4 linked regions of the Homo sapiens genome follow. The protein of the gene in region 1 interacts with the protein of each later gene in a pairwise test. Each region holds a gene or a part of one and is shown in the gene's direction. Other genes may lie near its edges. The genes, in order: CTTNBP2NL, STK26, STRN and STK24.

What was found.
Region 2: the proteins of CTTNBP2NL (region 1) and STK26 interact in binary tests that used the Homo sapiens proteins (3 or more experiments, as listed by UniProt).
Region 3: the proteins of CTTNBP2NL (region 1) and STRN interact in binary tests that used the Homo sapiens proteins (3 or more experiments, as listed by UniProt).
Region 4: the proteins of CTTNBP2NL (region 1) and STK24 interact in binary tests that used the Homo sapiens proteins (3 or more experiments, as listed by UniProt).

Annotation. Positions count from the first base shown.
Region 1 is NC_000001.11:112,413,176-112,420,213, forward strand, and holds part of CTTNBP2NL (CTTNBP2 N-terminal-like protein), read left to right. Parts: intron 1-2,981; 5' UTR 2,982-2,990; coding exon 2,991-3,089; intron 3,090-7,038. UniProt on the Homo sapiens protein: Regulates lamellipodial actin dynamics in a CTTN-dependent manner. Associates with core striatin-interacting phosphatase and kinase (STRIPAK) complex to form CTTNBP2NL-STRIPAK complexes.
Region 2 is NC_000023.11:132,061,299-132,068,336, forward strand, and holds part of STK26 (serine/threonine-protein kinase 26), read left to right. Parts: intron 1-2,134; coding exon 2,135-2,191; intron 2,192-6,916; coding exon 6,917-7,025; intron 7,026-7,038. UniProt on the Homo sapiens protein: Serine/threonine-protein kinase that acts as a mediator of cell growth. Modulates apoptosis. In association with STK24 negatively regulates Golgi reorientation in polarized cell migration upon RHO activation.
Region 3 is NC_000002.12:36,956,512-36,963,549, reverse strand, and holds part of STRN (striatin), read left to right. Parts: intron 1-7,038. UniProt on the Homo sapiens protein: Calmodulin-binding scaffolding protein which is the center of the striatin-interacting phosphatase and kinase (STRIPAK) complexes.
Region 4 is NC_000013.11:98,444,664-98,448,124, reverse strand, and holds the end of STK24 (serine/threonine-protein kinase 24 isoform b precursor), read left to right. Parts: 3' UTR 1-1,307; coding exon of another isoform or gene 1,308-1,459; 3' UTR 1,460-1,919; coding exon of another isoform or gene 1,920-2,027; 3' UTR 2,028-2,940; downstream 2,941-3,461. Other genes in the region: FARP1 (FERM, ARHGEF and pleckstrin domain-containing protein 1), read right to left, coding at 1,308-1,459, 1,920-2,027. UniProt on the Homo sapiens protein: Serine/threonine-protein kinase that acts on both serine and threonine residues and promotes apoptosis in response to stress stimuli and caspase activation.

The DNA of each region.
Region 1 (7,038 bases):
TACAATATAATTTAGTTCTTTGTATATGTACCTCTTATTTTTATTTTATTAGAATCTAACAAATAATACTTGGTTTTTACTTAGAAGCTTAAACTAGAACCAAGAAGGACTTCCCAATTGCAAAAGGGCAACTGAAGTTATTTCCGAGGTCATCGATCTTGGCTGTCTGCAGTTTTTGATAGTGCCTTTCTTAAATTCTTTTGAAAAATGAGACAGGATAATAGTTACTAATAATGAAACCAGGTATCAGCAATGTGGTAAGATGTTCTACATTTATTAACTTAATCTTCATAGCAGCCCTATGAGTTAAATATCATCATCCCCCTTTCACAGATTAGAAAACGGAGTCAGATAACTTGCCCAGTCACACAACTAGGAAGATGCAGATGTGGCATCTGACTACCAAGCTACATGTTCTTTCCAATATAACCTCTAATAAAGTGTAGCTTTATTAGGTTTGTTAGAATTTTTTTGTTTAGTTTTGTTTTAGTTTTTATTTTTATTTTTAAAATAAATGTTATCAGATATATCCCTGATACTAAAGTGAACGTCATTTACTAGTTGCTGAAATTCACTTGTTAGAAAATAGAGGCTGGGCGTGGTGGCTCACACCTTTAATCTCAGCACTTTGAGAGGCCAAGGCGGGCGGATCACCTGAGGTCAGGAGTTGGAGACCAGCTTGGCCAACATGGTAAAACCCCATCTCTACTAAAAATACAAAAATTAGCTGGGCATGATGGCATGTGCCTGTAATCCCAGCTACTTGGGAGGCTGAGGCAGGAGAATCGCTGGAACCCGGGAGGCGGAGGTTGCAGTGAGCCAAGACTGCACCATTGCTCTCCAGCCTGGGCAACAAGAGCAAAACTCTGTCTCAAAAAAATAAATAAATAAAAAGAAAAAGAAAAAAAGGCCAGGTGTGGTGGCTCACACCTGTAATCCTAGCACTTTGGGAGACTGAGGTGGGCGGATCACCTGAGGTCAGGAGTTCAAGACCAGCCTTGCCAACATGGTGAAACCCCGTCTCTACTAAAATACAAAAATTAGCCAGGCGTGATGGTGGTTGCCTGTAATCCCAGCTACTCAGAGGCTGAGACTGGAGAAGTACTTGAACCTGGGAGACGGTGGTTGCAGTGAGCCGAAATCACCCCACTGCATTCCAGCCTGGGCAACTGAGTGAGACTCCATCTCAAAAAAAGAAAATTAGCAGTTAGAGCTGAGGTTACATCGAAGATGTTTTACTATGCTTTAAAAGACTTGGACAGCATGTCCTGGAACACAATCTAACAACAAAGTGAAGTATGCATTTTATACATGTTCACTTAAAAGCAGTAGCTCTGGAAGGAATCAATTCTTTTTTTGTGTGCCCCCCAAAATTAAAAAGAGTGATAAATTACTGGAGGATGTGTGAACTGGTCATGTTTTGATTCACTTTCCATAAGAGTGGCAATTTGAAAATAAAAAGTGGAGAGAGAAATATTTGTTCTACTTTGGAAATTATAAAATATATCTTACCATACACACTGGTCAGAAGGCTCTTCCAAGATTGTACAGCAGTCTAACTTGTATCTTTATGTGGTTTGTGAGAATTAGTGTTGTAGAAAGGATTGAGTTTGTGTCATGCAATTTGCCATTTAACATACTTTGGAACATGCAGATTCTCAGAGAAATGTGAACTTACCAAGTCAGATAAATTCAGTTTTTGGTAGCCTAGCCAATTAAGATGTTTAAACAGGCCTGGCACAGTGGCTCATGCCTGTAATCCCAGCACTTTGAAGGCTAAGGTGGGAGGATCACTTGAGCCCAGGAGTTTGAGTCCAGTCTGGGCAACACAGGGAGACCCCATTTCTACAAACAATAAAAAATAAATTAACCAGGCGTGGTGGCATGTATCGGTGATCCTAGCTACTTGGGAGGCTGAGGCGGGAGAATTACTTGAGCCCAGGAGGTTGAGGCTGCAGTGAGCCGTGTTTGCACCACTACACTCCAGCCTGGGTGACAGAGCAAGACCCTGTCTTAAAACAAAAAAAAATAAAGATGTTTAAACCCTATACTTTGAGAATTCATTTAAAAGTAAGTTTGCATATAGTTGAATTAAGTCTATTTTACTATACAAGATATAAATATTGTGTTAGCTATTGTCTGTGAAAGCAGACAATTTAAAAGAAAAATTTCTCCCATACTCCCACCAAACATTATCTCTTTTCCCGAATTTTATTTTAACCAATTGAAGAGGGATATCAGAATGTTTTATATACAGTTTTGGAAATTGGTTATCTAAAACTGGGAAATCTTTTGATGGTCTATCAATTTTTCAGAGAAATGGTATTCATTATAACACAATTTTACCTGAAAAATCAGTGGCTAATTCTTGTTTGCTTTTTTTTTGGTTTTTTTTTTTTGAGACAGAGTCTCACTCTGTCGCCCAGGCTGGAGTACAGTGGCGTGGTCTCGGCTCACTGCAATCTTTGCCTCCCGCGTTCAAGTGATTCCCCTGCCTCAGCCTCCCGAGTAGCTGGGACTACAGGCGTGCCCCACCATGCCCGGCTAATGTTTTGTATTTCAGTAGAGACAGGGTTTTACCATGTTGGCCGGGATGGTCTCGATCTCCTGACTTCGTGGTCCGCCCACCTTAGCCTCCCAAAGTGCTGGGATTACAGGCATGAGCCACTGCACCCAGCCCTAGCGGCTAATTCTTTCTGAGATTTCCTAGGATATTTGTTTGTAAACGTGTCTGGAGGAAATATGATGAAAAATTGATCTTTGTGAGTGGTAGTGAAATCAATAATTAAAGTGAATTTTACTTTCTGTTGTTGCTTAGTTTGTGATTAACACCAGAAAACATATTTCTATTTAATTTCAACTATTTCCTTTATTAAGGCATTTGATACTATAATTGCTCTTATCTCTCACTTTATTTTTTCTTTAATTGTATCAAATTAACTATGTCTTTGGAGATTGTCTGATTGTTACCTTTGTTTCAGGCTTTCAAGATGAATCTGGAAAAACTCAGCAAGCCTGAACTCCTGACACTATTTAGTATTCTTGAAGGAGAGCTTGAAGCAAGGGACCTTGTTATAGAAGCCTTAAAGGTATGTTAAAAGAAAAAAAAAAAGAGGTCATCATACATTGTGAAAGTCATTCATTAGTTTTAATTTATTTAACTAAGGTATTTCTGCAGTTTCCATTGAAATTAAATGGAGGACATACTGATACTTGCCATAGGTAGCCACCTACATTGTGTGTTATTAGGGACACTGGTGAAACCTTTCTGTTTTCAAAATAGTTCCCTTAGTTTCTCGATCTGATGTCTAGACCTTGAACTTCATTCTTTTTTTTTTTTTGAGACGGAGTGTCACTCTGTCGCCAGGCTGGAGTGCAGTGGCGCTATCTCGGCTCACTGCAACTTCTGCCTCCTGCATTCAAGTTCCTGCCCCAGCCTCCTGAGTAGCTGGGACTACAGGCGCACACCACCATGCCCAGCTAATTTTTGTATTTTTAGTAGAGACAGGGTTTCACCATGTTGGCCAGGATGGTCTTGATCTCTTGACCTGGTGATCCGCCCCCGCTTAGCCTCCCAAAGTGCTGAAATTACAGGTGTGAGCCACCACGCCCGGCAGAATTTCATTCTTTTAGTTTAGTGGCCCTTAGCTGTTTTTGAACGCTGACCCCTTTGAGACTTGATAAGAGCAACTTCCTAATAAATGTACATACATCCATATATCAAAATTTGAAATATAATATCTGGGAGATCAAGGATCCCATGAAAACATCCACGGATTCCCTGGACCCCAGATTAAGAATTCTTTTGGTAGTTTTAGCCCATTTCTAATTGTCACTGCTAATTGCCTATTGTTAGTCTCACTTCTTTGCCCCATTTATCATCTGTCTCAATCCCTTCATAATTAGGATAGGAGTGGAGGTAACAGCTGCCTCTAATGGAAAAATCAGAGGATGACCTCGTTTTCTCTTTTATAGTTTTACCGAGATAACCTGTCTGCTTTTCAGCCTTAGAAACTGTACAAACCTGTAGTGCTTTATGTGTCTATTTACTAATCACTGTATCCTCAGCACCCAGCATAGTGCCAGGCATGTAGATGCTCAGTAAATGTTTGTTGAACAAATGAAATGATTGTACCATTGTGGTGTGTTACTTTAAAAGATTACTATAATACTTCTAAGTGGATGTTGTGAATTACTAAATTTTAAAGCCTCTTCTTATGTACTCTGCAGCACATACTGCCTTCTGGTTTTAATGTTAACAGATGCTTAGATGCTTTTTGCACATGTTTTCCTAAAATATATTTTTTTCTTCATGAATCCAATTTTGGTTACTATAGGCAGTTCTGATAAGTTGAGAGAGAAGCTTGAGAAGCAAGAGCTAAAATTAAGGGAGCATTTTGATATAAGATACCATTCAGAATCAGGCACAAGTGTTGTATTTAGTCTGCATATGGTCTGTAGGTGATAAAATTATTCTGAGGCTTAACTCTGTGCAGTTTAGGTGAAATGAATAACTTCACCAGAAGTGACATATCTTTAAACAATCTATTGTTAGATAAAATAGGGGGCAGCCGGGATTAAAATTGTTTCAATCGTTTGAGAAAAGTAACTGCCATAGCATTCTTTAAACTGAAGTATCATTTTATTTATGGAGTTTTGGGGGGTTTTTTGTTGTTATTTGTTTTGGTTCTCCAATGTATCAGGATTTTACTGCATTATTTGTATCGTTTTTGCTTAACAATAAACACCTGTTGGACTTTATGAACTACTATGGCAACTTACCAATTTTCTTCCTTTTAATATTGGTTCTTAATTGATGCTTAGTCGGTTGAAAAGGTTTTGGTCTTTGTTCTAAATAGTTATGATTTGTTTTTCTTTTCTGTTTTGTCTCCAGTAAAAAAAAGCTTATCTTTTTATTTTCTCCCTAGCTTCAAAATAGATTTTTGTCTGGACATAAAATCTGTTCTTTAATCTTATATCTCTAAACAAAACCATATGGCTTACTGTCACTTCTTTGGCAAGGCTTGAGTTTCTTTCAGGATATGTTGTAAAGTTCCCATAGGCTGTAAGTTGACCTCACCTATAGAGTTAGAATTGTAAAAGAGCTACATTCCTATTCCAAAATTTCTGCAAAGTGCCAGATTGCAGCTATACTCTTCTAGAGCCCCCCATAATTACGTTCTTTTTCTTCCCAGAATCCTCCTCACTCACTCTCTATTGCAGCCAAGACATGTTTGGCATAGAACCAGGGAAAGCCAATAGAAAATAATGTAACACATTATTCAGTGTCTTGTATATTTCAAATCTAATTGTTATGGAGGGGACCTATACTATATTTGGTCCTAATTAAATTTTATTTAAAGTGGTTTTCTGTTTTAGAAGGAATCATGTCAGAAAAAAAAAAACTTCTTTATGAACGTCTTTCCCTTTTATTACTTTAATTTCATGAATAAGAACACCAAAGGAATACCCTCTACAATGAAAGCAAATTACATTGCTCATGAACTGTCTGGGGGAAGCAGAGAGTGGAACCACATAGTTCAGCAGGAAAGCCTCAGTTCATTAATTCCAAGCAAATCTAGTAAATGGCTTCCTACCATAGGCTGTGATTGCTTCAGAGGAGAATAAAGGAAGGTTAATCAATGGCCATTTTAAAAAATCTGAAAAATAGATTTGACTGCTAATAAAATTTAGATTAAATAGTTTATTTCTGAATATTCCACATCGGGTATATTACATCTGCACATCTTAGATCTGATGCAAAGCCACACTAAATGGCTTCTGTGACTAAATAGAATCCACCTTGCATTTATTGGTATTGCTTTATTTTAAAGCATTCTTTAAATCATCTATACAATGATAAATGGTGAAATATTACAGCTTTCATGTGCGATTAACTTAAGGAGTCTTGAATTCGTTTCCATTGATGCCTCAATCATAAAATAGGGATATCCTCTTTTAAAACCGAGGATAGAACTTTGTTGTGTTTGGCCAAATGCTGTTGCAAAATCCCCCAAGCAAGAAGATTTACAGGCAAAAATGTTGTAGACATGACAAAGTTAGAAGTATATTTAGAGTATGAGATTATGTAATACATCATTCTATAGGTTTAACTGTTGTGAGTTTTTTCAGCCACAAAGGGTTAAAATGAAAAAATCGAAATGTTATGTCTTTGTTGAAACAAATAATTTACTTTCACTGAAAATATTATTGAAAAAATAATCATAAGGATCTAATGACAGTGCCAAAATATAGAAAACAAAAGTTACCATGGAAGGTGCTGTGGCTTAAGAACATCACAGCTATGATCATATAGTGGTTAGTACTCTGTGTTGTGCCTGCAGCAACCTCAGTTGTATCCAAGTTGTGGCACCAAAAATTAAAAAAAAAATAACAATGCAAGTTCACTATAAGTCCATAGCCTAACATCTGCCTTTGGTCACGGCCTTGTACTTATTATGGAAGCAGATTATTATAAAGACTGGTCTGAAATGAAAAACGTAAAATTGAACTTAGCAATCACCATACATACTAATAAGCCTGTGAAGAGAGTTTGCATTTTTTAAAAAAATCAGATATTAGCTTGCTTGATAACAGATCTTTGAAAGTCTTAAACGGACTCAAGTTGAAACATTCTCTGGCACCCATAAGCCTGGACCTAACAGTTCTTTGGCCAAAAATGATCCCATTTTAATAGATGGTTTTTAGGAAGAGCTTTTAAGATTGGGATGGGTGGTTTCGATCATTGATAAAGATCACATGAACACATGAACATAAGCTATAACTGACAGAAGTCCAATTTCTGTCTAGTTCCCAACTGGGATATTAGGGTGGGAGCAGAACTTTATTTAGGTTACTGAGTTATAAGGTTTTTATATTTACAGTATTCATAACCTTTATTATAAAACGTTAATGAATTAATCAGTGACCATTTGTGGCCACATTTTAATATGTTTTTTAGAGTTGGAGTGGCTTTTTTTTTTTTTTTGAGATGAAGTCTCGCTCTGTTGCCCAGGCTGGAGTGCAATAGCATGGTTT
Region 2 (7,038 bases), on another chromosome or scaffold:
CCACTTTTTTCTTCTCTTGAAAAAAGTATAAAGGTACATCAGAGTCACAATTCTCAGGTTGCGAGTGCCTAGGTTCTATACACAAATACAAGTTATATGAACCTTTCCTGGAACTCCTCTTCCCTCACCAGTATTGTGGGAATTTATTTCCTCTATTTCCTAATGTAGACTTCACTGCTAACCAAGACTCTCAGCTTTCTGCTCACAGTGCCTGCTGGCCATCTATGTCAGGACAGAGTGGATGTCAAGATTAGTGGAGGAAGTGGTAGGGGAATATTGTTCCTCCCTTTCTCTTACAAATTCTACATAGTGTCAGCATATGGAAAGGAGAATCATTTTGTCTTAATTAACTGAGCCCTCCCTTCATGATCGCTAACCCTAGGCCACATCCCATTCCCCACACTACAATGTCAGTTCCACTCTGATTCTTCAACCCTCTCCCATCCCCTAAGCACTCATCATCATGTCACTGGGTTCCATTCTCTGCCTTGATAAAGTCACATCCTCATGGAGATGCCTGGAAATTTTAAATTGGACTCCTGAATACCTCCCAGGGATTTTTGAGTTTGAGGGCTACTGGCAGTAGCTTGAGAATCTTCACCCCGCAGCTGGGGTTGTAAAGGTGAGAAATGTGTTTCTGGCATCCCAAGTTGAGGCACCATGCTGAATATATTTTCCTACTTGAAATATTGTTAAGATATAAATAGTAGTGAGTTTCTCTGGTACTTTTTATGCTATACTACGAATGAATACATTTGTGTGAAATTGTCTTTTGGGAGGACTACCCCAGGAACTTAGACATTATTTTTATGGGAAAATGCTTGCTTTTAAAATTCTGAACATCTTACTTAAAAACCAACTTTTGGAACACAGTCCAGTCACTACTTGGCTGCTGCCAGTATAGTAAAGCCAACCATTCTACTTCCAGTCAGCTCTTTGGTCCCACAAAAATTCAGAGAATACCACTCATGAAATGGTATGGAGAGAGAGGTGTCCCTTGTATTTAAGCTATAGCTAAAATAAAAAGGGTTTAATGGTTTATTCCAGTGTTTAACTGATGGTACTGAATGGTATGTGTGTGTGTACACCTGTTTTAGAATTTGTATACATATATTCCTCCCAGGAGCCCCATTTCCTCTTGTTCAGCTCACAGGGAAGTTAATTCCACCTGGAGAAAGCACAGATTTTTAAAGCTACACTCTCCCTTTTTCTTATCCATTTACATCAGAGGTAAAATGAACAATATTCTTTCTAGGTTCCGTGTGTGCCAAAAATGCCCATTAACCGTAGCTGATAAAAGTTTGAAGTACATCAAAACAAATGAAAGCCAACAACTGAAATAAGGCAAAATATCCATTGTCCTCAAACTCAAACCCAAAATTTCTACAAGCCCTCATTTACCTCCTCATTCTTTAATGTAACTATCTTTTCTTTCCAATATCATTCAAGATAATTATTTAAAGCTTTGTTTTTTATAAAAATTACTAATAGTTCAACAATAACAAACAGTACTTTTATTTGTTTAGCTATATCATAGGCAAAAAGGTATGCGGGTAGTCTAAGCTCAGAATTTTAATTTGGAATGTTCTATGGAAAAAATATATTCGGGGTTCCCAAGCAACCATTTTTAAACCTACATTTTAGAATCTGTTCTTTATTTTTTTAATTTTTAATTTTTGTGGCTACAAAGAAGGTGTAAATATTTATGGGGGTACATGAGCTATTTTAATAAAGGCATATAATGTATAATGATCACATCAGGGTACATTTACTCTCTGTGTTACAAACAGTCCGGTAATACTTTTCTACTTATTTTTAAAAGTATAATTAAATTATTATTGACTATAGTCACCCTGTTGTGCTATCAAATACTAGATCTTACTCATTTTCTCTAACTACTTTTTGTACCCATTAACCATCACCAACTCCCCCTCCCTACTATCCTTCCCAGCATCTGGTAACCATCCTTCTATTCTCTATCTCCAAGGGTTCAATTGTTTTAATTTTTAGCTCCCACAAATAAATGAGAACATGCAAATAGAATCTGTGCTTTAGTATGTGAGATTTAACATTTTTGCTAGTATGTTATTTTGGCTCAGGTTTGTAATTATTAAATTGTTTCATGGCTTTACAGGGGTCTAAATTATGGATAATAATGGAATACCTGGGCGGTGGTTCAGCACTGGATCTTGTAAGTATTTTAAAATAGTTACACACAGATGCAAATGTGTGCATATGCACATACCTTAATTTTTTAAATTGAAGATTAATGGCTTTTGAGCACGCTAAGTGGTTGCTTTAGTTAATATGTTCAAATTAAATTCTTTTTTCATGACCTCTACCTTATGTAGGTACAGATGTATTGTACGTTTGAACATGTTGCTGGCATTCTAAGACTATATAAGAAATGCAAATAGCTTAATAAAATAAAGTCTCCCAAATTAGAAGGGGATGTGTGTATCCATTGCTGTCAAAGTTTGACTTTTGCAAGCTTATCCCTGAAAAAACTGAGTTTTCTTAGATTTTTAAAAAATATGTAATTGAGATAACTGTCACTAAAAGTGTTTTTTATGAACTGAATGTTTGTGTCCCCCCAAAATTCATATGTGGAAATCCTAACCCCCAATGTGATGGTATTAGGCGGTGGGGACCTTGGGACCTAATTAAGTCATGAAGGTGAGTTCTCATGAATGAGATTCGCACCCTTACAAAAGAGGCCCCAGAGAGCTCTCTGACTTTCTTTCCACCACGAGAGGGTGCAGTGAGAAGAAGGCCTTCTGGAAACCAGGAAGAGTGCCTTTACCAGACTCGAATCTGCCAGCCCCTTGATCTTGGACTTCTTTCCCAGTCTCCAGAACTGTGAGAAATATTGTTTAAGCCACCCAGTCTGTGGTATTCTGCTATAGCACCTGAATTGACTAAGATAGTGGTACTAGGGTTCTAAACAAGGTTGGCCTACAGATCCAGTTCTTCACAGAGTTCTCTCTGCCCCTCTATAGGTTATTTGGAAATGTGATGGCATTTGGGTTGTCACAATGACTTAGAAGTGCTCCTGCCATTTTTGTGGTCATGGATCAGAATGCTAAAATCCTGCAGTGTGCAGGAAAATTCAACCCAATGAAGATGCATTTACACACAGAATGCCTTTGAGAAACACTGGTTGTTCCCCAATTCAGTGTGATCCTATCAATGTTGAGTTTCTTTCCCTTCCTTAAAAATCTTTATTAATATGATACTATGTTTTAAAATTCAGTATGACTTATGAGAGGCAACTTAGTGTAGTAGAATGACCACTGGGCTGGCCTGGGGTGTTTGAGGTTATAGGTCTGGCTCTGTGCCTGTGAACCAGACACAAACTTCCTGGACGTAGGTGTTCTATAAAACAAAGAAGTTGCACTAAGTTATTTCTAAGTTCCCTTCCATCTTTAATATTATATTTTTTTTATTTGCGTGTTTCTGCCTTAGAAATTATAGAGTATGCTGTTTCTAAGAAAGTGTTTTGATTAAAATAATCAAGTAATATTTTAATTCTTATTTTTTTAGGTGGAGATGAGTTTTCCTAACTGAAAGTGATTAAATATTTTTAAAAGGCTTTAACCTTGACTGCCAGTAACTCAAAGCTTCAAATAATTTTATGAACAGAAATGACTATAAGAGATTTTCTTTCCTTTAGGCAGAACCATATTTAAACCATTTTAAAGAAATGGTAATTAAACTTGATGGAGAGCCTCATCTACTACTAGGAATTCATGTCAGTTTAATCAGTTGCTGAATTTGGTAATCTTTCCTTGTGTCTAATCTAATTCTTATATCCTAAAGCCTGAGTTCATTTTTTTTCTCTCGTCTCTAGTGAGAGAACACCACTGATGTTTCTTTGTGTAATAATCCTTCATGCATATGGAGTCAGGCTTCATTCTCCTCTTGAAGTTAAATGATCTCATTTCTATTTGTCTTGTCACAGAGTCATATTATTCAATAGTTTTTTCATTAGCTCTACAAGAAGCCTCTCAATTGTTTCATGATCCTCCTTCCATTTTTTGAATATTAAGAGCCCTTTCCAAATTTATCAGTTGTCTTATCTGGTTCCTCAGGGTGCTCACCATATCTCTTCCCCATTTTGGAAGCACTGGCAAAGCTAGGCCACTCTGTTCAACAGGATCACTGATAGCAATGTTAAACAGTGAACACTGGCCTAACCCCAACCAATGACCCAAATCTGTGTCCCCTATTAGTAGTTTGGTCAGTTTTATGAAATCTCCAAGTTAAATGATTGTGAGATCTTAATCTCATCCTGCTATTCTGAACTCTACTTAATAAAACAAATAGCCATTAATAACAGTTTCAATGAATGAAAAATGTTGTTAGTACTGTATTGGTTAAGAATCAAAAGGCCTAGGTCATAAACCCAGTGCTAACACTGACTGCCTGGCAAATATTGGGCGGCCCTTTAGCCTCCTTGTGTCTTAATTTATTCACATGTTAAATGAAGAAATTGAATCAGTAATCTCTAATTTTGTGTTCTTAGCTCTAAAATTCAATAATATTGTGATTTAATTATAAAACTCATTTAACTAGACTTTACAGGGAGAGCAGATAATGAGAAAATGTGCTATTCCTTTTTCATGTATATTCCTGTACAAATAAATGCTATCATTTGGGGGAATCTAAGACAGGATTAGGTGTAGAGGAAGGCTCTGCTACTAAGAACAAGAGGAAATAAGAGGGATGTTTAGCAGAGAGTGTTTCTCACATTAAACTGGTGCCTGGTACCTAACTAATGGAATAACATAAGATTACAACTTGTCATTTATGTTAACATTATACAGTGTCTACCTTGAGTCACTCCCATTCTTGAAAAACAATTTATTGTATGTGAGCAGACTTTGAGTATATTGCACATCATTTTATTGAGTTTATTATGCTCCACTTCTTTCCAAAAAGAATCGTGGTGGCTTGCAACAAAAACACATATAATAAGATGACTAGAATAAAACATGAGCCCCAAGAAAAAAGAAACAATATGCTAACCATAAGAGAGGGCATAAAATAGCAGACTGCATTAGGGACTGGCTGGAAGTTAAATTGTGACAAAGATCCATGAGCTCACAAATGTACAGTCTTCGAAAGAGTCAAGGTCCCTCTCTTGCATATTCTTACTTGACAACAGAGGCAAATTACACAAGGCAAGTACACTGCCCTGGGACAGAGATATTATCTGTTAGAGACATGGCAAGTTCTTCAGTTATCGGAGAAAAGTTCAAATGGAGAAGTCTCCCTGCCACAGAGTCTTTCTTCCCATCCTCCTCTAGCACCCAGTTAATTGAGATTTCACTTTTATTGAATTTTAACATGAACCTAAAATATAGCAGATAAGCTCATGAATCTTTGGGATCCCCTTTTTGTTGTTTTTACTTAAATATTTTTAAAAACTTCTGTATTAGGTAATATACTGGCTTATTTATGTTACTTTTACATGTCCTTCAGAATGATAGCTAGTAGGTCGTACATTAATCTTGCCCAATCACTGAAATAACCAAGGATATACCTCCCCTGGTCTTGCCAATGTCCTGTGATCAGATGATACTAATTACTGATCTTAAGTAGTGTGACATTTGTCCTTTAGTTATTTTGTAGTACCTCAGAAGTTCATTGCCAGCCATCAACAAAATAGTATGCCATTTTCAACCTTTCTAGAAGACTTTAGAAACTATTTTAATCACTACTGTTTGAATAGAAACTTTGGGGTGGAAGTTGATAGATTTGAAAGTAAGTAGATAATGTTACCTAGGAAAGGGACCTATTGAATTACAGATATCCCTGGAGTATACTATATACCCAGACCACAGTTAATATTAGATGGTGAGACCAAAGTATGAGTTCTATTTTAAGCTGTTAAATTTCAACATGAAAGTGCCCTTTATTCAGCATAAATATGGCATTCATGAAAGATGAAATACACAAGGTGCCAAAGAGCTGTGGATCCCTCCCAGTGTGAGGCAGAGTGGGCAATGTTTGATTTTCACCACCTCTTCCCTCCTTCCAGAAGCAAACAGAACTCTACCTCTGCTCTGACTTTAGATTCCCACCCTTTCCTGTAATAATATTGTACAGTCCACTGTTTGTGCTTTATGAGGTACCAGAATTTTAAAATAACCATTTATTTTAAAGAGGGATTTTCAGATATTCCATTACAAGTTCTCCTGAAACCTAATCATTGCTTTCCTTGTATTCCAGTTGGAACTATTGGCTTTGGTACAGGGATGGGGAAATAAAGGGATATGTGTTACATTTATTTGAAAAACATTATCCCTCCATGATTTAATTTTTTTTTACCATCATAGTCTGAATAGTTTAATTATTATATTCTTGGCTAAATTTACAATTTGAGTCTCAAAAAGGCTATTCTTTGCAATATTATTAAAATACATAAATGCTGACTGATATGATCAAATAGTTGCTGTGGAAATCTTATGGATTCTCTGACCTAAAAATCAGTTTCGTGTCAATATGTAGTAACTTTTTCACAGCAATTGCCTGAATTTAAGTAGCTGATTTCTCTTTTTTTCCATCTAAAGAACAGATAGTTGGTTCTGTCATTACGTAAGCATATTTGTTTCATCTTTGATGTAAATATTCAGGAACCTCAGAATTTGAAGCCTAGTATATAGGTAAAAGGGCTCGTATTATCTTTCATTAAATTGAATCATTAAAAAACCTGTTCAGCCCTTTGACTGAACTCTTTTGCTTTCTTCCTTCACATTTTACATTTTTCCTTCCTTGTTTAGATATTGGTTTGATAAACAGAACGGCATCATGTGTCTAAGTGATTTCTTCATTTCAAAGGTACCAATTTTGAATTTTATGTTTCCAAACTTTTACACATATGTGTATGTGTGTGTGTGTTTTTCCCCTTAAGCTTCGAGCTGGTCCATTTGATGAGTTCCAGATTGCTACCATGCTAAAGGAAATTTTAAAAGGTCTGGACTATCTGCATTCAGAAAAGAAAATTCACCGAGACATAAAAGGTATACAAAAGTC
Region 3 (7,038 bases), on another chromosome or scaffold:
CAGTAATCTCTGGTCTTTGTCCCCCCTTATTAGTGTAATTGGAAAAAAAATTATTACCATCGTTACATTTGAATCTTCTTTATTTTTCTTTTGCTACTGGAATTTTCTTAGAAACACAATAGGAAGTAAAATAGTTGAATGCGTTGTGATGAAATACGGCTCAGTTGGTGTCCTCCTTTTAATTTTTAAATCTCTTCCTAAGCCATTAACACCAGAGTCAACACAAATACCTTTAAGATGAAGTCAAATTTGCCTCTTCAAGAACCTGTCAGTCCTGCTCTTTCAGGTTGCCAGGGAAGACTTGTGAAAGGCAATCCAAGCTCTCATCTGCCTGGCCTGCCTTTACTGCTTCCTCCCTCCTTCAGATCTTGGGAGTAAGGAAAGGGCCACGTTATAGCAAAAACCTATTTATTTGTCACTTATTTCACTCTTGCTCATCTTATTTGATAAATTCTCTTTTTATTTTTGGTAATGCTCCCCTCCTCACATCCAGTTGAGATTAGGCAGTAGTTCATGGGGGGAAAAAAAGAATGATTAAGATTATTAGTGAGCTTTACATTTGTGAAAGGAATTGGAGAAGGAATACTAATAATATTTGAGAAAAATTTCTGTATGTGAGGCATTGTGCTAGATGACCTCAAAGAAACATGCAGTCTAGTTATTAGTACGATATAACTTGTAGAAGAATCAGAGTGTTTATCATTTGGGGAGAAGGCTAATTTCTTTAGAATAGTGAAGGAGAGGCCGGGCGCGGTGGCTCACACCTGTAATCCCCAGCACTTTGGGAGGCCAAGGCAGGCGGATCGTGAGGTCAAGATATCGAGACCGTCCTGGCCAACATGGTGAAACCTTGTCTCTGCTAAAAATACAAAAATTAGCTGAGCATGGTGGTGTGTGCTGGAGGCTGAGGCAGGAGAATCGCTTGAACCTGGGAGGCGGAGGTTGCAGTGAGCTGAGATCGTGCCACTGCACTCCAGCCTGGCGACAGAATGAGACTCCATCTTAAGAAAAAAAAAAAGAATAGTGAAGGAGAGAAGAGCCAGCAGTGAATGGGGAGAATAGCAGGAGTAAAGAACTTTATGAGTTCATGAGAACCTAAGGCTCAGTATTTGAAAATTACTGACTTATGAGAAAGCAGGCATGTAAATAAAAAATAAAAAATGTTGGCCCTAGATTTTGATATGTGTGTGGTGTGTGGTGTAGGAGAGGCCCTGATATTTACCTGTAAGTGTTAGAGTTGTATGAAAAAGGTGGCAAGATTGAGTAGCTTAGGGCATGTGGTGTGGAGGCTGTATGCTAGAGTTTTGGCATTAATAACTTGTATTTTCTGGGTTTTGGCATTAATAATTTGTATTTTCACTCCCCAAATATTTTTCAAGCATCTACTTCATGCCAGACCTTGTTCTAGATACCGGAGATACAACAGCAAAAATACAGATCTTGCCCTTATGAAGCTTAAATTGTTGAGGCAGGCAGACAGTGATAAATAAATACATAGAATGTTGGGAAAGAAAATAAGAGGATTTGAGAGGGTGGAATGGGGAAGAAAGGATTCACTGATAAGATGCCATTCGAGCTAAGACCTGAAAAGGTGATCTCTAAGGTGAGGAAAGAGCTTTCTACACAGAAGGAACAGCTGGGGGAAGGGAGCACGCTTGGAATATTTAAGGAATATCAAGGAGGGAAAAGTGGCTAGAGTAGAGGAAGAGAATGGAAGAAGTCATGTCAAACAGGTACTAATGGAAGAAGTCATGTCAGACAGGGTCTTGCCCATTGTAAGGACTTTGGCCTTATACCTCAGCAAGCTGAGCAGCCGTCGGAATGTTTTAAGCAAAAGAGTGACACCATCTTTAAAAGGGACCCCTTGTAAGGATTCAGAACAGACTTGGAGGGAAAACAAGTAGAAGCAGCAGGGGGACTAGTTAGGAGGCTACTTTAATAAATCCAGGCAGAAGATGAACTAAGGTGGTAGTGATAAGATATGTGAATATGTATTTGATACGTATTCAAAATACAGGATTCTGAATACATTTTTAAAGGTAGAGCCAACAAGATGTGCTAAAGGATAGAATGTGGGGTTTGAGAAAAAGGGGAGTCAAAGATGACTTAACAGTTTTTAGAGGGCCAGGTGCAGTGGCTCAAAACCTGTAATCCTGTAATCCCAGTACTTTTGGGATTGAGGCTGAGGCAGGAGGATCACTTGAGTCTAGGAGTTCAAGACTAGCCTGGGCAACATGGCAAAACCCCATCTCCAGAAAAAAAAATTTTTTTAATTAGCCGGGTTAGTCCCAGCTACTTGGGAGGCTGAGGTGGGAGGATTGCTTGGGCCTGGGAGGTTGAAGCTGCAGTGAGTCATGATCACTCCACTGCACTCCAGCCTGGGCGACAGAAGGAGACCCTGTCTCAGAAAAAAAAAAAAAAAAAAAAAAAAAAAGTGCAGCCTGGGCAACATGGTGAAGCCCCATCTCTACAAAAAATTCACAAAGTTAGCTGGGTGCGTTGGCATGCGTCTGTGGTCCCAGCTACTCGTGAGGCTGAGATGGGAGGATTGCTTGAGCCCTGGAGATCAAGGCTGCACTGCGTTATGATCATGCCCCTGCACTCTAGCCTGGGTGCCAGAGTGAGGCCCTGTCTCAGAACAAATCAATCAAACAAACAAACAAACAAAAATACATGGATATAGAGAGAATGAGCAGCCTCATAGGACAGCTGAGAAGATTTACTGAGCTTTTTAATGGAAAACATAAATACTTAAAATGAGTTTGTCTTTATTATTGTGACTATTATTTATAATTATCACAAAAGGCAATATGGCAGAGACCTGGGTTTAAAATTCTTGCTTTAAAACTTACTATTGTATTTTACGCCTAAAATACATATTTGCCGTAATTCTGATCTCTCAGAGCCTTAGTTTTCTCATGTGTAAGTTAAGGATAATAAATTACCTTGTGAGAATTAAATTAAGATAATTTAAAGTACTTAGCAGAGGCATGGTACATAAGATAAAGTAAGTGCTTAATAAATGGTTGCAGATGCATGATGCTAAACTTTTGCTCTCGGTTATCTCCTCATCCCCAGAGAAAAGCATAATCTTCAGTCATGAACTTTTCTGAGGCTGGAGCATACAAGTGCCATCCTGAGGCCATGCAGTGTAATATTCTGGGTCTGACCCAGGCACTAAGAGATATTTAATGGGAGTGAATGGTTGCCTTCAGTGTCAGCCTCAGAACATTGAGGATATACTTCAAGTGTATTTGCTTTCCTTTTAATAACCCAGTAGGTATCTGTTACCTTGAAATTCATATAAACTTTTCTGAATGTGTTTATCTTAACTTTGCATTACATCATGGGTAACAAATTGTGTAAATTTACTAACCACATTATGAAATGAATCCTACATTTTATTTGGCTCTTTAAGCCACTTCCTTTACATGTGGAGCAGGTGAACTCCATTGTCATATGGTATAATTTTGTCAGCAGGTTCATTTTTCATTCTACTCATATTCTTGATAATTTCATAATCTTTATATTTTAGAAAGGTTATAGAGGCTTTAATCTTTTAAAACGTATCCTATTATTTGTCTCTTCAGTTCAGTGTTTCTCAACCTTAGCTATAATCTTAGAATAATCAGAGGGAATGAATACTAATTCCCTGGACTCTACCCCAGATCAATTAAATCAGAATCTTAGGAATGAGGACCCCTAGCATTAGTATTTTTTGAGCTCCCCAGTATACAGCAAGGATTGAGAACCACTGCTTTAGTTGTTTTTTTCTGTTTTTACATTATCTATAAAAGTTTGGTGATTTCAACACTTTTATTAGTATTCCCTATATGGATGGCTTTTTATAGAATTTGGGATATAATTTCTTTTTCCATTGTTCTTTCTGATGATAGCATTTTATTTTTAGGCAGTAGAATATTATAATTTGAATCACCTCCTTCTGACTGAGATGTAATGACAGAGTAATCTTTGAGCTGGAATGAACTTTGGAAATAATCAGCTCAGTTAGGTAAAGTGAGGTTCAGAGGGAGGCTGAATGACCAAGAATGAAATAGGTTTTGTACAAGCTGTCACTTACATCTCCAGATATCTTTACAGTTTTATTTTTTCATATTTTTTGTCTAGGGGCCAGGCTAATCATCTGTATCATTCCAATTTGAGTATATGTACTGCTACAGCCAGCACTCTTTACAGTTTTCTTTAAAGCCCTTTCAGATACACTGTACCATTTAAACTGTACAACCTTCTGAGGTAAGCAGAGCCACACTGATGCTTATTTATTTATTTTTTTTAGATAACAGGCATAAAGATTTTACTGTGTTTTACTGCTTTCTAGCTTATTTTATTGGTTGCATTTAAGATTTTCTCTGTCTTTGGTGTTATGTAGTTTCATTATGATGTGTCACAGTATAGATTTCTTTTTCTTTTTTTGAGATGGAGTCTAGCTGTGTCGCCCAGGCTGGAGTGCAGTGGCACAATCTCGGCTCACTGCAACCTCCGCCTCCTGGGTTCAAGCAATTCTCCTGCCTCAGCCTCCCGAGTAGCTGGGACTACAGACGCCCGCCACCATGCCCTGCTAATTTTTTGTATTTTTGGTAGAGATGGGGTTTCACTGTGTCAGCTAGGATGGTCTCTATCTGACCTCGTGATCCGCCCGCCTCAGCCTCCCAAGTGTTGGGATTAGAGGCGTGAGCTACCACACCCAGCCTATATTTCTTTTTATTTTGTTTGGGACTTCATTAGACTCCTTGAATTTGTGGATTGGCTTCTCATTAGTTCTGCAGATTTCTCAGTTGCTATCTTGTTAGGTTTGTCCTCGATTGCATTTTCCTTTCTTCTCCTTTTGGGTTTTTGATTACATGATCTTAGGGCTTCTCCATTATCTGCTCTGTATTTTCCATCTTTTTATCTCTCCATGCTTTATTCTCGATAATTTATTCTGACTTATTTTCCAGTCTGTGAATGACATATCTTCCACTCCATTAATTTTCTCTTCAGTTGAGTCTGATTTGTTAAAACCATCCACTGAATTTTTAGTTTTGGTTATTGTTGAAGTTCATTTTGGTTTCTTTTCAAATCTGCTCGGTCATTTCTTAAAAAAATATTGTTCTGTTCTCTGCAGGTATTTTCAGTGTCATCTTTAATTCTTTAAACATAGTAAGTAGTTATTTTTTAGTTAGTGTCTTTGCGTTTCCTTTATCTGAGGTCTTAGAGGTGCCTTTGTGTGGTCTGTTGTCTCTGCTGGTTCTTGTTCATGACGACGTGTTCCCTTGTATCCTTAGTTTACCTTTGTGTGCCGCCTGCTGTCCTTGAAAAACTGTGAGACTAGACAGGCACGGTGGCTCATGCTTGTAATACCAGCACTTTGGGAGGCTGAGGCGGGCAGATCACCTGAGGTCCGGAGTTCAAGACCAGCTTGGCCAACATGGTGAAACCCCGTCTCTACTAAAAATATAAAAATTAGCCAGGTGTGTTGGCACATGCTTGTAATCCCAGTTTCTCAGGAGGCTGAGGCAGGAGAATCACTTGAACCCAGGAGGCGGAGCTTGCAGTGAGCCAAGATCGCGCCACTGTACTCCAGCCTGGGCAACAGAGTGAGACTGTCTCAAAAAAAAAAAAAAAAAAAAAATTAGCTGGGCGTCGTGATGGGCGCCTGTAATCCCAGCTACTCGGGGGGCTGAGGCAGGAGAATCACCTGAACCTGGGAGGCAGAGGTTGCAGTGAGCCGAGATTGCACCACTGCAATCCAGCCTGGGCAACAGAGACTCCACCTCAAAAAAAAAAAAAAAAAAAAAAAAAAAAGACAAAAAGAAGAACTATGAGACTAATCTGAGCTCTCAAATAAAGGTATCTTCTTCAGAAAGGTTTTTTTTTGTTTGTTTTTTGTTTTTTACATTTCCTTCTGGTAGATGTCTAGAGTTATTACCAGTCTGGGGCCACTTTATTTTTTATTTTTATTTTTTGAGATGGTCTTACTGTCACCCAGGCTGGAGTGCAGTGGTGTGATCTTGGCTTACTGCAACCTCTGCCTTCCAGGTTCCAGCGATTCTTGTGCCTCAGCCTCCGGAGTGGCTGGGACTATAGGTGTGCACCACCACGCCTGGCTAATTTTTGTATTTTTAGTAGAGACGAGGTTTTGCCATGTTGGCCAGGCTTGTCTTGAACCCCTGGCCTCAAGTGATCTGCCCGCCTCCGCCTCCCAAAGTGCTGGAATTACAGACGTGAGCCACTGCCAGGCCTGGAATCACTTTAAAGTAAATGCATTACTTAAGATGTTTGGGCCACCCAGCTGATGTGAATTTTGGTTGTGAATACATTTGAGGGCCAATATACTTCTGTTTTGTCTTTGCTTTGAAGACATAAGCCCTTTAGGGATCTAGCTAAATGTGAGGTATATCACCTATTAGACTGTCCACTCTGGAGGGGTAGGGTGTTTGATTTTTGCTCCTTGAGTCCTGCAAGGCTGTTTGTTGTGATTGGTCAATATCCTAAGGGCAAAAATGGCTTTTTGTTCCTTTACCTCACTGGGTTCCCATTTTCCCTTTTATTTTGGCCAGATAATTCCTTCCTATTTTTGTGTTGCTTTTAAGAAAATTGTGAAAATATTTTGTCCAGAATTTTTGGCTGCGTTCAGTAGAAGAATTGTTGTGGGGCACCATAACTGGAAACTGAATTCTCTTATTTTACTTTCAAAATCTGACAAATAAGAATGGCCCTACTAATTTTTGGGGGAGAAATAATGTTGACAGACAGCACTTCTTTATCAAGAGATGTGCCTATTTAGTCCTGAACTTTATTTCAAATCTACTTTTCTTTGAATGGTAAAGGGAGACCTACAGTTTTTCTCCAAAATCTTGATAACTGAAGCAGAGTTTAAAACAAACAAAACCCTTTGCTATGCAGTCAATGAAAGGTGTTTGAAAGTTCAGATAATCTGGATAGAGTCCCCTTTGCCCACCTGCTATCTCCTTGATGTCAGCTATACTTTTGATTTGCTAATGTGTGTAGCATCCAGGTTTCAATTCTGGGCCATTA
Region 4 (3,461 bases), on another chromosome or scaffold:
TCTGCCACTTCAGCAGAAGAGCAAGGGAACAGCCAGCACCCAGGCGTTCCTGAGGTACAGTGGAGACCCACTGGCCTGGGCACTCACTCAGTGTGGAGCTGGAAGTACCTTGCTGCAGTGACACTGCCCGCTCCATTGGAGCAGTTAGGAGCGAGGTGGCCTCTGGTTGCTGGGGAGAACGCTACCTCCTATTTTCATGGACATGGCAGAGAATGGCGGGACGTGTCCCATCCTGCTTAGTGGAAGCTCTCCCTTCCTTTTTTCTTTTTCTTTTTTTTTTGAGACAGGGTCTGGCTCTGTCACTCATACTGGAGTTCAGTGGTGCAGTTATCGCCCACTGTAGCTACCTCCTGGGCTCAATCGATCCTCCAGCCTTGGCCTCCCAGGAGATGGGACTACAGGCTTGCACCACCACGCCCAAATCTCCCTTTTTATATATTTGTGTATTTGCTCTCTACCGGTGCTTCTCAAATGGGTGCAATGCTGTCCCATTTGGTAAAGTCTGGAGACATTTTTAGATGTCCCAACTGAGGGGTTGCTGCGGGCATCTAGTGGGTGGCCAGGGATGCCGCTGAACATCCTGCACAATGCAGGACGGACTCCCCAAATTACCTGGCCTTGTCCCAGGCCTTTCAGGATCTGGACTGCAAGGCTGGACCCTTTGTCACAATAATAGCAAAATCCCAACTTTGATCAACCCAGCTCTCAACCCAGCTCTCGAGCTCAGTCCAGGATCAGATTTGAGAATGGCTCTCCTCTAGGTTCCTTTTTCAGGTGATGTTGTTTAGGAGGTGCTCAGCATATTGCTGAGGACCCCTCCCCTTCTGCCTCCCGGGGCGAGGAGGGCTCAGCAGGGCAAACTGCACAAGTAGTCGGCTTGGGGATGCAATTTGCAGAGGCCCAGGATCTCTATTCAAAATATGAATTGCAGGAACAGTCTTAGGCCTGACTGTTGCATTTCTTTCTTGGCTAAATGAAGTCTGCAGTCCCTGCCATTACACCATGTAGGCAGTCTCACTGGGGCTTAGCTTCATCATCCCGGACACGTTATGTCAGAGATCTCCAAGCAAGATGTCTAGGGCCTCAGCCAACACCGTGCAGGGTAAGGGCGCAGGGAAGTTGGGACCCCACTTTCTGCCATGAGAACAGAATCGCCTGCTGGTGTCGGGCAGTGGGACCCCAGGTCTAAACGCTTAGTTGGCAGGGAAGGGTGGGGCCATCTCACTCGCTGACTTGGGAGAAATCCTGATGTTTGGAAGAGGGGGTCCTCTTCTGCAGGGCCCTGTGCGTGGGAAGGGGGTGTCTACCTTTCGAACGTGTACTCGCTTTCCGCCCTGAAGTAGTAGACGTGGGACTTGAAGTGCAGCTTGAACACGTAGTCTTTCTGGATGTTCTCGGACTCAGAGGGGATGGTGAGCGAGTAGCCGAGCAGAGGCAGGCTGGCAAGGGGATGATTGTCCTGGAAAGGGGAAACAAAGCAAAGTGGCTTTTCGGGGTCAGCTTCTGCTGCTGGGCCTGGCTGCTGCCCCGCATCAGACAGGGACTTGGGAGCCCAGGCAGCTCCCTCCTCGGGCGTGGGCCTGGAAGGGACCATGGCAGCCAGTGTTTGCCTGTACGTGATGGCCCGGGTGGCAAGTCCCGCCAGGACTGAGCTGTAGATAAAGCCAACCCCCGTCCCTTGTCCAGGCAGAAGACAGGTGGCCCTTCCTAGGGCAGAAGTTGTCCTTCAGTGGATGATAATGTCAGTCTTCCCTAGAGTTGAGGGCCTCGGGTGGACAGGGCCCCCCGCCAGCATCCCTGTCATCCCCGTGACACCTGGAGCCCAAGAGGCCTGAGTCATTCCAGAGGAGGGCGGCCCCCTCACCTCATGCTGCCACCCCCAAGGTCCCAGGGCCACCTGCCCTGTGCGAGACACTTACCTGGTGTGATTTGTAGAAGAACAGGCAGAAGTTTGTGAACACCACCCACAGCTTCTGCCACCCGTTGCTGTTTTTGAATTTCCTCAGCAGGTTTCCAGACAACTGATTCTGAAAGGCAAGGAGGCCTGTGAGAAGCACAGCGGGCACCTGCCCCAGGAGGGCACAGAGAGCAGCTCTCCCTGCACCAGGGCCCTGGGCTGGGGCATGTCCGTGACTGAAGGATGTGGGCCCCACCCCCGCTCCCCCGTGTGTGGGGAGACTTGGCAGGTCCTGGGACCCTGATCTCATCACTTCCCCTTGTCACTTGCTGTGGGGCATCTTGGGGTCCCTGTGTCCCCCCAAAAGACACGTTGAGGTCCTGACTACCAGTACCTTAGAACACAGGCTTATTTGGAAATAGGCTCGTTGCAGGGTAACTAGTGAAGACGAGATCACACTGGGGTAGGGTGGGCCCTAAATCCAACGGGAGTGGTGTCCTGAGGAGAAGAGCCACCTTGAGGGGAGAGGGGTGTGCCCTGTGACACCGAGGCAGAAATGGGGGCGCAGGACCCCATGCATTGCCAGCAGGCGGAAGCTGAAGGAGGGAAAGATCCATCCCAACAAGCTCAGAGCAGCACTCGTTTTGAGGGGCCAGGCACCCTACCCAGGAAGTGGGGCCTGGGGTGCATGTGAGTGGCTCCCACATGCCCTCTAGTGGCCCAGGAGGCAGTTGCAGCCCTGCCCACCTCCAGGCTCAGGGCCGGCCCAGCCCCTGGAGCATTGTTAGGATGCGCTGCAGCCCAGCTAGGGGGCAGGGACAGGCACCTGTGTCCATGCTACCTCCAAACAACTCTGAGCAGGCCTGACGCACTGGTGGCTCATTTCGTCCCTTTGCCAAAGTGACATCACCAGCAGAGACTCAAAGCAGTTGCACCACCTTGTAAAGGCACTTAATGCCACTGAATTGTTCCCGTAAAAATCGTTAAGTTGGCCAATATTGTGGTATAGCTATTTTACCACAATAAAAAATACAGACCTCCGAGTCTGCCTCATTCCATCTCTCTGGGTGCCCCTGGCACTAAGCTTCTGTGCTGGGAGCTGGGATCAAATGGTCTGATGTCCCTGCCCTCCAGTTGCTCAGGGAGGGTCCAGTGGGAGACATGGACACTGACAGTAGGTCCGTGAGGGGCTGCAGGATGTGGGGGACCCCGCAGACGGGGAGAAAGGGCATTCCAGGCCAGGCAGGCAGCTCCAGCCATCCATCCTCCTCCCCCAGTGGCAGAAAGGAACAAGAAAATGCAAGGCTCCAGGTTCCCAGAAGGTCCTGGTGGTGGCCAGGGCTGGGCTGATGCCCATGCGGCATCTTGGGTCACGCAACATGGAGCAAGGAGGGTGGCACACTCCCCTTTCCTAGGTATTTTCATACTGACTCACATAATTTTCACACAGCAGCCAGCCCACAGTGGGGTTCATACATGTCACCCATCACAGTCTGGGCCCATTTGTTTCCAAAGCAGCTTCCTTAGCGCTCTCTAGCTTCTGCCTGGCCATTCCAATAGCCTC